Linked DNA regions of Homo sapiens: region 2 is linked to region 1. Evidence: fine-mapped expression QTL. Tissue or cell type: unexposed skin. Region 1 holds a variant in brackets; the other region holds the start of a gene. All regions are shown on one strand. Distances are from middle to middle.

Region 1 (8,000 bases):
AGGAGTGCGAGCGTACCGCCCGGGACTGGCAGGCAGCTCCACCTGCAGCCCCGGTGCGGGATCCACTAGGTGAAGCCAGCTGGGCTCCTGAGTCTGGTGGGGACTTGGAGAACCTTTATGTCTAGCTCAGGGATTGTAAACACACCAATCAGCACCCTGTGTTTAGCTGAAGGTTTGTGAGTGCACCAATCGACACTCTGTATCTAGCTGCTCTGGTGGGGCCTTGGAAAAACTTTATGTCTAGCTCAAGGATTGTAAACACACCAATCAGCACCCTGTGTTTAGCTCAAGGTTTGTGAGTGCACCAATCAACACTCTGTATCTAGCTGCTCTGGTGGGGCCTTGGAGAACCTTTGTGTAGATGCTCTGTATCTAACTAATCTGATGGGGACGAGGAGAACCTTTGTATCTAGCTCAGGGATTGTAAATGCACCAATCAGCACCCTGTCAAAACAGACCACTCGGCTCTACCAATCAGCAGGATGTGGGTGGGGCCAGATAAGAGAATAAAAGCAGGCTGCCCGAGCCAGCAGTGGTAACCCGCTCGGGTCTCTTTCCGCACTGTGGAAGCTTTGTTCTTTCGCTCTTTGCAGTAAATCTTACTGGTGCTCACTCTGTGGGTCCACACTGCTTTTATGAGCTGTAACACTCCCCGCGAAAGTCTGCAACTTCACTCTTGAAGCCAGCGAGACCACGAGTCCACCGGGAGGAACGAATAACTCCAGACATGCCGCCTTAAGAGCTGTAACACTCACCGCGAAGGTCTGCAGCTTCACTCCTGAGCCAGCGAGATGACGAACCCACCAGAAGGAAAAAACTCCGAACACATTCGAACATCAGAAGGAACAACCTCCAGACGCGCCACCTTAAGAGCTGTAACACTCACCGCGAGGGGTCGCGGCTTCATTTTTGAAGTCAGTGAGACTAAGAACCCACCAATTCCGGACACAAAAGGAGATTTTCACTTTCAACAAAAGTATTCCTGAATTGATAGACTCTTTTACAATGATCATGTATTGCCTTTATCTTTTAAAAACATTCTTGAGGCTGGGCGCGGTGTCTCATGCCTGCAATCACAGCACTCTGGGAGGCCTGTAGTCCCAGCTACTCTGGAGGCTGAGGCTGGAGAATCTCTTGAGCCCGGGAGGCGGAGGTTGCAGTGAACTGAGATGGCACCACTGCACTCCAGCCTGGGCAACAGAGGGGAACTCCATCTCAAAAAGTAATGTAATATAATACAACATGATATGATATAATAATGAGCACTAAACTAGCACTCAGTAGAACTTCCGCAGTATGGAGATGCTCTATATCTGTACTGAGCAATACGGTAGCCACTAGCCACATGTGGCTCTTGAGCACTTGAAGTGTGGTGAGACTAAGGAAGAGCATTTTTAATGTTATTTAATATTAATTAATTTAAGTTTAAATTTGCTGCAGGTGGCTAGAGGTTGCCATATTGCACAGCACAGCTCTGGAACATGAAGGCAGAAGGCAAAGCCACCTCGTGTGCATCCTAGGGTCACAGACAGTGTGAGAATATGTGTTTTCCAGGATGATTCACTTGTGTGTTGTATTCCCCAGGACGATTCACTCGCCATCTGAATATCATTTCCATCAATGCCTTTGAGGATGACATTTTAACCAAGATTTTCAGTTCGATTGTTGACTGGCACTTCGGGAAAGGGTTTGATGTGATGTTTTTAAGGTAAGAGGTTTCTCTGTCTTCCTGGATAGTGGGCTGGGGGTTCTCAGTTTCTGGCCCCTCCTTGACTACTGTGCCATCCCTTTCCTCCCAAGGTACGGAAAGATGCTGGTCCAAGCTACTAAGACAATTTATAGAGATGCAGTGGAGAACTTCTTGCCAACTCCCTCGAAGTCACATTACGTCTTTAACCTGCGGGACTTCTCACGAGTGATTCAAGGGGTCCTGCTGTGCCCTCACACACACCTGCAGGTCAGCCACTATCATTTTACTACCAAGATCATTCAGCATATCCTTGGCTACATAGAACATGTAGTAATAGCAGTAATAGCTAACTTTTATTAGGCACTTAGTCTATGCTAGGCATTGTGCTAAGCATTTTATAAACATTATCTAGTTCAATCCTCAAATCAACCCCAGGACTTACCTACTACTGAGAACTACCACCTCAGGGACCATCTTCCACTCGTTTGAATAATTAACTCTGGATTTTTAGGATGTAGAAAAATGTATCCGGCTTTGGATCCATGAGGTTTATCGGGTCTTCTATGATCGTCTGATTGACAAGGAGGACAGACAGGTCTTTTTCAACATGGTGAAGGAAACCACCTCCAATTGCTTCAAGCAGACCATAGAGAAGGTAAACCAGATTCTGTGATCATTTGACCTCAGAAATGGTTCCAAGTGTTTAACCACGTTACTTTCAGATTTCAGGTTCCCTTCCTGTTGGAGACTGCCAGCTCTGCACTCTGAATCTCGGGAAACAGTATTGAGTCAACTGCTCTTTTTGACTTGGTGATATTTTACTTGGTCCAACTTTGCTTCCCTTCTGTTGTAACATATAAGTTTGAATCCACTCAAAATGGCTTAACATGCATTTTAAGTTCATTATAAATGAATGTTTATTATGAACTTAAAATGCATTTTTAGGATCAATTAATTGGTGAGTTGAGAAATGAACTGTACATTGTCATGATTTGACTGAGGTCCTATAAAGCTCAAGTGAAAGATTGTTATGGTTTTCCAGGTGTGAATATTTTCTCTTTTCCATTTCCATATAAGAAAAGTTGTTTTAAACATCTATATTTTTATCATCTGGTTATTCTTCCACTGCTAAGAAGCTGTGATTTCTCCATAGAAAAATTTCAAGTGTTTTATCTTGCGTTCAGAGGCCAAGTGCAAAAGCGTCACTGGGTTCTAACATAGGACGAGGAGGCATCTAAAACGTTCCTACTCCAGGCACAGAGTGGGGACCAGGATAGTGTCTATACTTCTATTTGGTGGAGGATCAAGCACCTAAGAAAAGCACATCCTTCAACTGTCTTTTCTGGGGACCGTACAAACTGATCACC[A/G]ATGTTTTAATCACATGGCAAATAGACTGATTAAAGCGTTCATACTCTAATGTCCTTTCTTTTAACAAAAAAAATATTTATTTTTAGAGGTAGGACCTCACTCTGTCACCCAGGCTGGAGTGCAATGGTATGATCATAGCACACTGCAGCCTCAAGCTCCTGGGCTCAAGCAGTCCTCCACCTCGGCCTCCTGAGTAGCTGGGATTACAGGTGTGCACCACGATGCCCAGTTAATTTTTTCTTATTTTATTGTAGAGACTGAGTCTCACTATGTTGCCCAGGCTGGTCTTGAAGTCCTGAGCTCAAATGATCCTTCTGCCTCGGCCTCCCAAAGTGCTGGGACTACAGGCATGAGCCACCGTGCCCAGCAATGTTCTTTCATTATAGTCTTTACAAGCATGAAATCCACATATTATGTTTAAAAAACAAAAAGACTGGGCCGGGCACAGTGGCTCATGCCTGTAATCCCAGCACTTTGGGAGGACGAGGTGGGCAGGTAACCTGATATCAGGAGTTTCAGGACCAGCCTGGCCAACATGATGAAACTCCATCTCTACAAAAATACAAAAATTAGCCAGGCATGATGGTGGGTGCTTGTAATCCCAGCTATTTGGGAGGCTGAGGCGGGAGAATCGCTTGAACCCAGGAGGCAGAGGTTGCAGTGAACCGAGATCACACCATTGCACCCCAGCCTGGGCGACAGAGTGAGACTCTGTCTCAAAACAAAACGAAACAAAACAAAACTGATGACCCATGACCTTGAAGGATGTGCTCAGAGGAAATAAGCCACGTCTCCCATGCCCTCCCTCCATGATGTCCCTACCAGCCTGGCTGGGCCATTCACTGAATGCCCCGCCGAGATTTACTTTTCTTACAGGTGCTTATCCACTTGTCACCCACTGGAAAGATAGTCGATGATAACATTCGAAGCCTCTTCTTTGGAGATTATTTCAAGCCAGAAAGTGACCAAAAAATCTACGATGAGATCACTGACCTGAAACAGCTGACTGTGGTCATGGAGCACTATCTGGAAGAATTCAACAACATCAGCAAGGCCCCCATGTCCCTGGTCATGTTCAGGTTTGCCATTGAGCACATCTCTAGGATCTGCCGTGTCCTGAAGCAGGACAAAGGCCACCTGCTCCTGGTGGGCATAGGGGGCAGCGGGCGGCAAAGTGCCGCCAAACTGTCCACATTCATGAACGCATACGAGCTATACCAGATTGAGATCACCAAGAACTACGCAGGCAATGACTGGCGAGAAGATCTTAAGAAGATCATACTGCAGGTCGGTGTGGCCACCAAGAGCACCGTGTTCCTCTTCGCCGACAACCAGATCAAGGATGAATCATTCGTGGAGGACATCAACATGCTTCTGAACACAGGTGACGTGCCTAACATCTTCCCTGCTGACGAGAAGGCTGACATCGTGGAGAAGATGCAGACTGCAGCCAGGACCCAAGGAGAGAAGGTTGAAGTCACTCCTCTTTCTATGTATAACTTCTTTATTGAGAGGGTGAGAAAGAACCTTCACATTGTCCTCGGTAAGAAGAAGAAAACTCCATTTGCCCTTGTTCTTCTGGGTGTTTTGGGGTCTTCTGAGTGCCCTGAGCAGGCCAATCCCTTACAATGGTCCCAGGGTTGATTCAGCCAACGCACCAGCTCGGGGTCAGGGCCCGGAGTTCCTCTGGCAACTTTTTTCACTCTTCTGAGCAGCAATTTTTTTTTTAAAGACAGTCTTGCTCTGTTGCCCAGGCTGGAGTGCAGTGGTGAGATCTCAGCTCACTGCAACCTCTGCCTCCCAGTTTCAAGCGATTCTGGTGCCTCAGCCTCCTGAGTAGCTGTGATTGCAGGCGCGTACCACACCTGCTAATTTTTGTATTTTTAGTAGAGAGGGGTTTCACCATGTTGGCCAGGCTAGTCTCATACTCCTGGCTTCAAGTGATCTGCCCGCCTCGGCCTCCCGAAGTGCTGGGATTACAGGCATAAGCCACCGTGCCGGACCCTGAATAATTTCAAACCTGTCCCCCGTCTTCAATTTCCTGAATTCTCCTCTGAGAATTACCCTTGCACAGAATGACATCTCGGGTTTTCTCTGTGAACGACATTTCCAATGTATCTAGAAACCTAGCAATTGTGTTTAGTACTTCCCTTTCTTTACCAAGTCCTGTCTGTTACCTCCAGCTGTCTCATATCCACTCTCTTATCTCCATCTCCATCACCTTCACATTGGCTAAGCTGCCATCCTTTTACCCAGGCTCACCTCTGCAACTTTCTAATCATTCTAGCTCCATTCTTGTCTGTTCCATGAAGCCAGGCTGATTTTTTTCATATGCTGCAAATATTATCATTGTGTTCATGCATGCATACACACACACACACACGCACGCATGCGCACACGTGCACACATATACACACACACACACACACATTGGGATAAGGACCAAAATTACTAACCTGCGGTCTCATAATGCCATAAGGCCACCTGCCAGACTGTCCTCTGTATCCTCTCCACCTTCATCTTTTCAAACCATCGCCCTTTCTGTCTTTTTTTTTTTTTTTTCTGGATATAGGGTCTTGCTCTGTCACCCAGGCTGGAGTGCAGTGATGTGGTTCTAGCTCACTGCAGGCTCAACTTCCTGGGCTCAAGTGATCCTCTCACCTCAGCCTCCTGAGTACATGGGACTACAGGCACACACCACGATGCCCAGCTAATTTTTTCCATTTTTGTAGAGATAGGGGACGGGGATGTGGGGTTCACTTTGTTGCCCAGGTTGGTCTGAAACTCCTGGGCTCAAATGATCCTCCTGCCTTGGCCTCCCAAAGTGTTGGGATTACAGACGTGAGCCACTGTGCCAGGCCTCTGTTCTTTACCCACAGTGACCTTTCACTTCCACCTAGACATCATGCTCCCTTCCACCACACATAGTCTAAATAACAATGAATGGAATTTTAAGTGTGGAACCCAAAATTTGTTATTGGCCAGAGATGGGATCAGAAACAAGCAGATGACCTCACAGCAACTTCTATAAATAACAGTGTATGGCTCCCGTGTATCAGCACAAATACAGCAAGTCAATCAAAGGGCTCCAGCCACACTGGCTACGTGACCCGAAGGATGCGGAAGGAACAATAGTGTGTATGGGAGACCAGTTAGAAGGTAATAGACTCAGGCATGGTGGCTCACGCCTGTAATCCCAGCACTTTGGGAGGCTGAGGCGGGCAGATCACTTGAGGTCAGGAGTTTGAGACCAGCCTGGCCAAAATGGTGAAACCCCGTCTCTACTAAAAATACAAAAATTAGCTGGAAGTGGTGGTGGGTGCCTATAGTCCCAGCTACTCAGGAAGCTGAGGCAGGAGAATAGCTTGAACCCAGGAGGCGGAGGTTGCAGTGAGCCGAGATTGCGCCACTGCACTCCAGTCTGGGTGACAGAGCAAGAATCTGTCTTAATAAAAAATAAAAAATTAAAATTTTTTTTAAAAAGGGGCTATTGTAATGGGCTCCTCACAAAGTTAAGTGAAAATATCCCACTAATTAGCCCGCATTTCCCAGGCACTCATTATGGCCATTGACAGTCACATCCCTGGAGCGCCAGGAGGAAGCCTGCCCCCACTTACCCCACCAGAATCCTTGGGAATACCCGCCTGCCTCCTTGGGTCCACCTGCCTTGGAGGAAGGTAATTAACAAAATCTCCTTTTCATTAGCCATGAGTCCAATAGGGGATGCCTTCAGGAACCGCCTGCGGATGTTCCCTTCGCTGATCAATTGCTGTACGATTGATTGGTTCCAGTCCTGGCCCACAGATGCCCTAGAGTTGGTGGCTAACAAATTTCTAGAGGATGTGGAGCTTGATGACAACATTCGGGTAGAGTAAGTGTTGATTGCATTTTAGGACTCTAGATATTCCAAATTTGAAGTCCAGACGCTGGCTCTATTTTTGTTGTTGTTTTGAAGATTTCTCAATTTGTATATAGCAAATGTCTTATGCTTTTAAATTGAATCACAGTTAGTTAGATATTTAATAAAGCATCTTGTCTGTAAAAGAAGAAAATTTCATTGTTCAGAATTGTCCTGGAGATTTGTCCTAGCTATGAGAACCTGGAATAATGATATAGCTATTTCAGTAGTCCTAGAATATGCATTCTCAACAGGAAGAAGATTGCTGCTGAGACCACAAAACAATGTTTGTTTGTTTATTTGTTTTTGAGATGGAGTCTTGCTCTATCCCCCAGGCTGGAGTTCCTTGGTGCAATCTCAGCTCACAGCAACCTCTGCCTCCCAGATTCAAGTGATTCTCATGCCTCAGCCTCCCCCAAGCAGCTGGGATTACAGGCACCTGCCATCACGTCCAGCTAATTTTTATATTTTTACTAGATATGGGGTTTCGCCATGTTGGCCAGGGTGGTCTCGAACTCCTGACCTCACGTAATCTGCCCGCCTTGGCCTCCCAAAGTGCTGGGAATACAGGTGTGAGCTACTGCACCTGGCAAAAATTAGTTCCTATAAGGGTGAAAATTTACTCTTTTATGTATAAAGCACATATATATATGTGCTTTATTATATATATATACTTAATTATATATATTATATATTATATATGTGCTTTATATATATGCTTTATTATATATAATATATGTGCTTTATACACTTTATGTATGTATATATGCATACATATATAAAAAAAGCATTTTATTTGGCTAGAGTAAGGGAAGAGGTGAGAATATCAGTCATTCTGGATGTTCCATGAAGGCTAGAGATCAGTCAACCTTGTCTACCTCTGTTTCCTTAGTTTCTAGAAGGTGCTTGGCACACAGTAGGTTCAATCATTGTTTATTTTATTTATTTATTTATTTATCTATTTATTTTGAGATGGAGTCTCACTCTGTCGCCCAGGTTGGAGTGCAGTGGTGCGATCTCGGCTCACAGCAACCTCCGCCTCCC
Region 2 (8,000 bases), 170 kb before region 1:
CCTGCCAAAGCCTCCGGAGTAGCTGGGATTACAGGCATGTGCCGCCACGCCCAGCTAATTTTTGTATTTTTAGTAGAGACAGGGTTTCACCATGTTGGTCAGGCTGGTCTCAAACTCCTGACTTTGTGATCCGCCTGCCTCGGCCTTCCAAAGTGTTGGGATTACAGGCATGAGCCACTGCTCCCGGCCCTAAAACATTCTTTTACCTGAAAAATTGTTTGACTGAAACTCTAATTTAACTGGGCACCTTCTGTTTTGTCTGGCAGCCCAATTGAGAAACAAGGCCGGGCATGGTGGCTCATGCCTGAATCCCAGCACTTTGGGAGGCGGAGGTGGGCAGATCACTTGAGGTCAGGGGTTCGAGACCAGGCTGGCCAACATGGCAAAACCCCATCTCTACTAAAAATACAAAAATAAGCCAGGTGTGTTAGCACACGCCTGTAATCCCAGTTACTGGGGAGGCTGAGGCAAGAGAATCACTTGAACCCAGGAGGTGGAGGTTACAGTGAGCCGAGATCATACCACTGCACTCCAGCCTGGGCAACAGAGCAAGATTCCATCTCAAAAAAAAAAAAAAAAGAAAGAAAGAAAAAGAAGATTGAGAAACTTGAAGCCTATATCCTTTCTTAAGAATTATCCAACACAAAGTTGTCAGACAACAAACAATTCTGGTACAGGTGAGGTGGCCTGGGGGAAGTCACTTTCACTCTCTTTGGCAGATACTTTATTTTCCACCTTTCCTCAGATTACATGTAGGTTTTCGGTTGAAGCCATGGAACAGATTTCATAACCAAGTTCAAGCTTTCCTGATGACCTAGCTGTGTGACTATGGGCAGGTTAGTTTAATGTATCAGTTTCCTCAATCATAAAACTTGTGAAAATACTGATATTTATATTCTAGGTTGTTGAGAAGATTCAAAGACATGATGTCTACTAAGTGCCTAGCAGCAGTCCCAGGGCATAGTATATGCTCAATAAGCGAAAGCCATTAGTATTGTTTTGATAGTTTTAAACACTAGTAGACTTAAAACACACTAAATTTCAGATGGTAGCATACCTCCTACTCACACACAGGCCATAGGGTCCATTAGCTCCACATCAGGACCATTCTAATTTTTTTTTTTTTGAGACAGAGTCTCGCTGTGTCACACAGGCTGGAGTGCAATGGTGTGATCTCAGCTTACTGCAACCTCCACCTCCTGTGTTCATGCAATTCTCCTGCCTCAGCAACCCAAGAAGCTGGGATTACTGGTGCCTGCCACCACGCCCGGCTAATTTTTTGTATTTTTAGTAGAGACGGGGTTTCACCATGTTGGCCAGGTTGGTCTTGAACCCCTGACCTCAGGCGATCCACTCGCCTTGGCCTCCCCAGCTGCTGGGATTATAGGCATGGGCCACCGCGCCTGGCCCCATTCTAATTTTTCACTTCATTGGATTACAGTTGCTGTTTTTGGTGGGACATGAGGTTTCACACCCAGTATAGGAGACCTGATAATCTTCCCATTTCCGTCTAAACCAGAGTCTCCAGCTCTCCCACTGTCTCAATTATTCCAAATGCTATTTGAAACCGTATGTATACTTTGTGATAAAGAGCATAATATAAGAGATGGAAAAGCTCAGGGTTATTTTGAAAGGATGGAAAGCCCAACTTTGAGGAAAAGGAGTAGAAAAAGGGGGAAAATGGAAGTACTTGGTTCTATTGTGTCTGGAATTCGTAGGTTCTTGGTCTCACTGACTTCAAGAATGAAGCCGTGGGCCCTCGCGGTGAGTGTTACAGCTCTTAAGGTAGCGCGTCTGGAGTTTGTTCCTTCTGATGCTCGGATGTGTTCGGAGTTTCTTCCTTCTGGTGGGTTTCTGGTCTCGCTGGCGCAGGAGTGAAGCTGCAGACCTTCACCGTGAGTGTTACAGCTATTAAGGCGGCATGAACCCAAACAGTGAAAGAACAAACCTTCCACGTTGTAGAAGGGGATCAAGCGGCTTGCCACTGCTGGCCCGGGCAGCCTGCTTTTATGCTCTTATCTGGCCCCACCCACATCCTGCTGATTGGTAGAGCCTAGTGGTCTGTTTTGACAGGGTGCTGATTGGTGCGTTTACAATCCCTGAGCTAGACACAAAGGTTCTCCAAGTCCCCACCAGATTAGCTAGACACAGAGTGTCCACACAAAGGTTCTCCAAGGCCCCACCAGAATAGCTAGATACAGAGTGTGGATTGGTGCATTCACAGACCCTGAGCTAGACACAGGGTGCTGATTGGTGTGTTTACAAACCTTGAGCTAGATACAGAGTGCTGATTGGTGTATTTACAATCCCCAAGCTAGACATAAAGGTTCTCCAAGGTCCCACCAGAGCAGCTAGATACAGAGTGTCGATTGGTGCATTCACAAACCCTGAGTTAGACTCAGGGTGCTGATTGGTGTATTTACAATCCCTGAGCTAGCCATAAAGGTTCTCCACGTCCCCATCAGACTCAGGAGCCCAGCTGGCTTCACCCAGTGGCTCCTGCACCGGGGCTGCAGGTGGAGCTGCCTGCCAGTCCCGCGCCGTGGGCCCGCACTCCTCAGCCCTTGGGTGGTCGGTGGGACTGGGCGCCGTGGAGCAGGGGGTGGCGCTCGTCGGGGAGGCTCGGGCAGCACAGGAGCCCACGGAGGGGGTGGGAGGCTCAGGCATGGCGGGCTGCAAGTCCCGAGCCCTGCCCCGCGGGAAGGCAGCTAAGGCCCGGTGAGAAATGGAGCGCAGCGCCGGTGGGCTAGCACTGCTGGGGGACCCAGTACACCCTCCGCAGCCGCTGGCCGGGGTGCTAAGCCCCTCATTGCCCGGGGCCGGCAGGGCCAGCTGGCTGCTCCCAGTGCGGGGCCCGCCAAGCCCACGCCCACCCGGAACTCCAGCTGGCCCGCAAGCGCCGTGCGCAGCCCGGGTTCCCGCTCGCGCCTCTCCCTCCACACCTGCCTGCAAGCTGAGGGAGCCGGCTTCGGCCTTGCCCAGCCCAGAAAGGAGCTCTCACAGTGCAGCGGTGGGCTGAAGGGCTCCTCAAGTGCCGCCAAAGTGGGAGCCCAGGCAGAGGAGGCGCCGAGAGCGAGCGAGGGCTGTGAGGACTGCCAGCACGCTGTCACCTCTCACTATGCAATGCTTTTCATAGGAACTCGGGAATGTTTGTGTTCTGGACAGGTAGGTTATGGAAAGAGCAGTGGACTCGGGGTCATCAGGACAGGTTCCAATTGTATCAGTGCTACTTATGAGTCAAGTCGACTTAGGAAAGTTATGTATCTCTCAGTTTTTTTGTTTGTTTTTCTTTTTTTTTGAGATGGAGTTTCGCTCTTGTTGCCCAGGCTGGGGTGCAGTGGCATGATCTGTGCTCACTGCAACCTCCCTCCCAGGTTCAAGCGATTCTCCTGCCTCAGCCCCCCAAGTAGCTGGGATTACAGGCGACTACCACCATGCCCGGCTAATTTTGTATTTTTAGTAGAGATGGGGTTTCACTATGTTGGCCAAGCTGGTCTCAAACTCCTGACCTCAAGTGATCCATCCACCTCAGCCTTTCAGAGTGCTGGGATTACAGGCATGAACCACCATACCTGGCCCATATCTCTCAGTTTTGATTCCTTATCCTTAAAATGGGAATATCGTGGTGTTTGGGGGGAAATTGAATGAAAAAAAAAGATATGCAAGCATGGCACCCCCAAAAAACTCATTAAGTCTAACTTGGTTTTGAGAGAACTTCACAGTGACCATGGAACATGTGCTTTTAATATTCGGGCGGCAGCTAATATTGTTACTTTTGAGTATGTGCACATGTATTTCTGTGTTTATCGTAATATTGATGTTAGCCACAACATTTATAGAGCATTGACTGTGTTGGGTGATCAAACTATCCCAGTTTGCCCAGGACTGAGATTGCTCCCAGGATGCAGGACTTAGTGTTAAAATGGGGAAAAACTGGGCTGGGCGCAGTGGCTCACACCTGTAATCCCACACTTTGGGAGGCCGAGGTGGGCGGATCACGAGGTCAGGAGATTGAGACCATCCTGGCTAACACGGTGAAACCCCGTCTCTACTAAAAATACAAAAAATTAGCTGGGCGCACTGGTGGGAGGCTGAGGCAGGAGAATGGTGTGAACCCGGGAGGCAGAGCTTGCAGTGAGCTGAGATCACGCCACTGCACTGCAGCCTGGGCAACAGAGCAAGACTCTGTCTCAAAAAAAAAAAAAAAAACGGGGAAAAACTGGGAAAATATCAGTTATCCTTCTACTATATGCAAATCGCTCTGTACACGTTATCCCGTTAACCCTTCAAAGCAACCCTATGAAGTAGGGACTCACATTATTGCCATTTTACAGACGGAAAGGACACTTGGAGAGATTAAACAACTTGCCAAGCCACACAGCTAATTAATGAGAAGAGTAGGATCTGAAGTATGACCTGTCCAATTGTAGATCCCAAGAACTTAACCACCATACTCTGTGCTTTTCGACGTCTCCAAAGGTCTTTTATTGCTGTTGCCTCTGTTATTCCTGGAACATTGCTAAACACCTTCCCATGTTCCCTTCTGTCACCAACACTTCCTGCTGCCCACCTGGGCCTCCAGCAAAGGGAGACACCAGCTCACAGAGCTAGGTCATGCCCAGTCTTGTATGTAGGCACCGCAGAGGCCCCTCCTTCCCTTAGCAACAGACGCTGAGACATGGTTACTGTGCCCAGCGCCTGCATACAAGCACTGCCAGTGTTAAGAGTCCAGGGAGGAGGAGGGAGAACAGTTCGGGCTGCCAGGATGTTGTTTGGAGGGGTGAGTCTCCCTCTTCTCTGTATTAATGTGTAACTCTGCTTCAGTCTTTCCTCTGCAGTGAACTCAGTGTGTTTCTGGAAAATTTCCAAGAGAGAAGCACTCAAGGGAAAGGAAGCGTGGCCACCGCTGGGGGACTAGGAACCAGAGCCAAAAGCGCAGCAGAAACCCAGTGCTGTCCCCTTATCTCTAGCTTCCCTTTCTCTCCTTTTTTACCAGGGAACTCCTCAGCGGGCCAAAGTCTATGACCTCAGAGAGGCAACCTCATGAACAGAGCTTTCAGAACATCTGGAAAGTTCCATTGTTGGTGTCATCCCCATTATGCTATAAGGAAGTGTGAATTTCAGACCAACTGGATAGGAGAGGCACATCCCTGGAGAAGCTGAAAGCTCTTTATTCATTTTAAAAAAATAGCTACAATTAGAGTGGACACCATGGGTGACATGGATTGCTCATCTCAGAAGGTAGGTGTGAATTTTAAGACGTTTCTTGTTTTACCTGTATTTTTTTTTTTTATTTTTTATTTTGAGACAGAGTTTTGCTCTTTGTTGCCCAGGCTGGAGTGCAATGGTGTGATCTCGGCTCACTGCAACCTCCGCCTCCTGGGTTCAAGTGATTCTCCTGCCTCAGCCTCCTGAGTAGCTGGGATTACAGGCATGTGCCACCACACCTGGCTAATTTTGTATTTTTAGTGGAGACAGGGTTTATCCATGTTGGTCAGGCTGGTCTTGAACTCCCGATCTCAGGAGATCCGCCTGCCTCAGCCTCCCAAAGTGCTGGGATTACAGGTGTGAGCCACCGTGTCTGGCCGATTTACCTGTATTTTTAATGTGTTGGGAATATGTGGGAAGAGGGCCAATTGGCATGTTAGATGCCCTTGACTGAACAAGTGTATTCATCACATTTTTTTGTTGTCTGCTTTGAAATATCATTTTTGCTGAATTAGACTTTTGGAAATCTTCAAGTTTTGCTGTGAAAAATCCGGGAATAGACACCCGTTCTTCCCTTTCCTTCCCTTCCAAGCCCATTAGACCATATATTCCAACCATCAGTTTTTGACTGTGGCTGAACATTAGAATATTCTGGGGAGCATCTTAAAAACATAGAGTCTTGGTCCCCCACTCCTAGATTCCGATCCAGAAGATTTGGAGTGGGGCCCTGGAATCTATATTTTTATCTAAGACCAGAGTGATTCTGGTGTAGCACGTCCTCAGACGAGCATTTGGGAATGGCCTCCATGAAGAACATACATACAACATGTGTAATCAGCAATAAGCTGCCCAAAGTGACAGTTCTACCCAATCTAAGTTCCAGAATTTCTGTTGTATCTGTGTTGAATCACCAGGTTGCCATACAGCGAAGTGCCCAGAGGAGCATTTTAAATAGAAACTTTGTAAAACTAAAGTGGATTTGTAGATAATAACTAAGCCAATATGCTCTGAAGTGAAAGCTCCTTGAAATTTACCAAAGAGAAGATTTAAGCATTAATTTCTTTCTTTCTTTTTCTTTCTTTCTTTTTTTTTTTTTGAGACAGTTTGTCTCTGTTATCCAGGCTGGAGTGCAGTGGCGTGATCTTCACTCACTGAAGCGTCTGCTTTCTGGGTTCAAGCGATTCTCCTGCCTCAGTCTCCTGAGTAGCTGGAACTACAGGTGTGCGCCACCGCCTGGCTAATTTTTGTATTTTTAGTAGAGACGGGATTTCTCCATGTTGGCCAGGCTGGTCTCGAACTCCTGGCCTCAAGTGATCCACCCGCCTCGGCCTCCCAAAGTGCTGGGATTATAGACATTAGCTACCACGGCTGGCCAAGCATTCATATTTTTAACAAACAATTTTGCACAACCAGCTAGTTCTTATGAGAATCTCGATCTCTTGAAGGTGCCACAGAGGATTCTTAGCCATTTATTGCCAGGAAAACTCTTTTAGCCCCATTCTGCAATTGATGCCTAGATCTGCTCATGTTGTGTGTGCCCCATGTGTTCCTGATCGACAGACTGGGATGCTTTCTGCTATCAGCGTACTTATGACTGTTTGTGTATTTGTTTTAGTCCAAGCCTATGACATAGCCTAGTTTAATTTGTTTCTACAGAGGTTCTCCCTCTTTCCATTGTGTTCTGCAAAATGCTCACGGTTTGCTTTCTTCATTATCCCGAGAACAGCGTCCCTGTCAGTTTGCATGATGCAGTAAGGAAGCTGAGGCAGGAGAATCGCTCGAACCTAGGGGGTGGAGGTTGCAGTTGTAGTGAGCCAAGATTGTGTCACTGCACTCCAGCCTGGGCGACAGAGCGAAAACTTGGACTCAAAAAAAAAAAATAAATAATAATAATAATAATAAATAAGTCACTGACTTAGAAGTCAAGCCGGCCAATTACATGGCTAGGATGTGTTACCTATCTTCTCACCCTCATTTTCTTCAGCTAGAATGCGGGTATGAAAAAAATCTCATGAGGTTGTACAGTACCTGGCACATAATCGTTTGGAATAATGGTAGATAGTATTGCTGCGGTTGTTGTTTTTCTGTTGTTATTTAATGAGGTAGGTGCTCCGGGAGAGATAATGATGGTTAATTTGAGTCATCTTTAAGGGGTTGGGGGCAGAGGGACAGCTAATAGTCATATGCCCCCTGCCCCATCCCACCCTCATCAGTGATCTTGCATGTCATAATTTGCACACCCAAATAAATCACACTGATACGATGTTGGCTCATCTTATATAGGAGTTAAGTCCAAAGTCAATGCCTAAGGTGAAAATCACAGAGAGTCAAAATTGCCCTTGAAAATCCCTCAAACCACCTTTAAAGTGCTGAACGGCAGCACCTCTCAATAAGTCCAGGCCAACAGCTTTTCTTCTAGTGTTGGAACAAGTTGCAGTTTCTCCATCACTAGTCCCAGGTGAAGTGGTTGTTTTGCATATAGGGGCTAAGTCTTAAGACAAAAACACATGTGATTTCATTCAATAATGTAGTCACTTTCTTCTCTGCTCAGGAGAGGTGGAGGGTCACTTGGAATCTGAGAGTGATTGTGGGAGCCACAAGTTGACCCTTACCTGAGGCTCACTCCACAGTATGCACTCACTGGTTGGAATGGAGTACTCAACACCCACATTGTTGAAATAACACTTTTTCTTTTCGCAGGAATCATAAAGAGTTGCTTATGTGTGTGTTAAATACACAGAAAATTCAGTGCCACTGCCTGAGTGAATTTCTCTTTGGAATTTTGCACATGT

What was found. PIP is the estimated chance that this variant, and not a neighbour inherited with it, causes the effect.
Region 2: DNAH3 starts here. The variant in region 1 is fine-mapped to the expression of DNAH3 in unexposed skin (GTEx, PIP above 0.99).

The regions. Positions count from the first base shown.
Region 1 is chr16:20,981,650-20,989,649 of GRCh38, reverse strand. DNAH3 (dynein axonemal heavy chain 3) reads left to right here. Exons shown (of 62, transcript NM_001347886.2): 45 at 1,585-1,708; 46 at 1,801-1,957; 47 at 2,202-2,345; 48 at 3,935-4,601; 49 at 6,764-6,929. Among named protein-coding and RNA genes, the nearest start is that of LYRM1, 85 kb to the right of the region's middle. The variant A/G (reference allele first, on the strand shown) is at 3,058.
Region 2 is chr16:21,147,531-21,155,530 of GRCh38, reverse strand. It overlaps DNAH3 (dynein axonemal heavy chain 3), which reads left to right and starts at 4,685. Exons shown (of 62, transcript NM_001347886.2): 1 at 4,685-4,780; 2 at 4,997-5,241. The coding sequence starts at 5,212. RefSeq lists an enhancer at 2,229-2,523.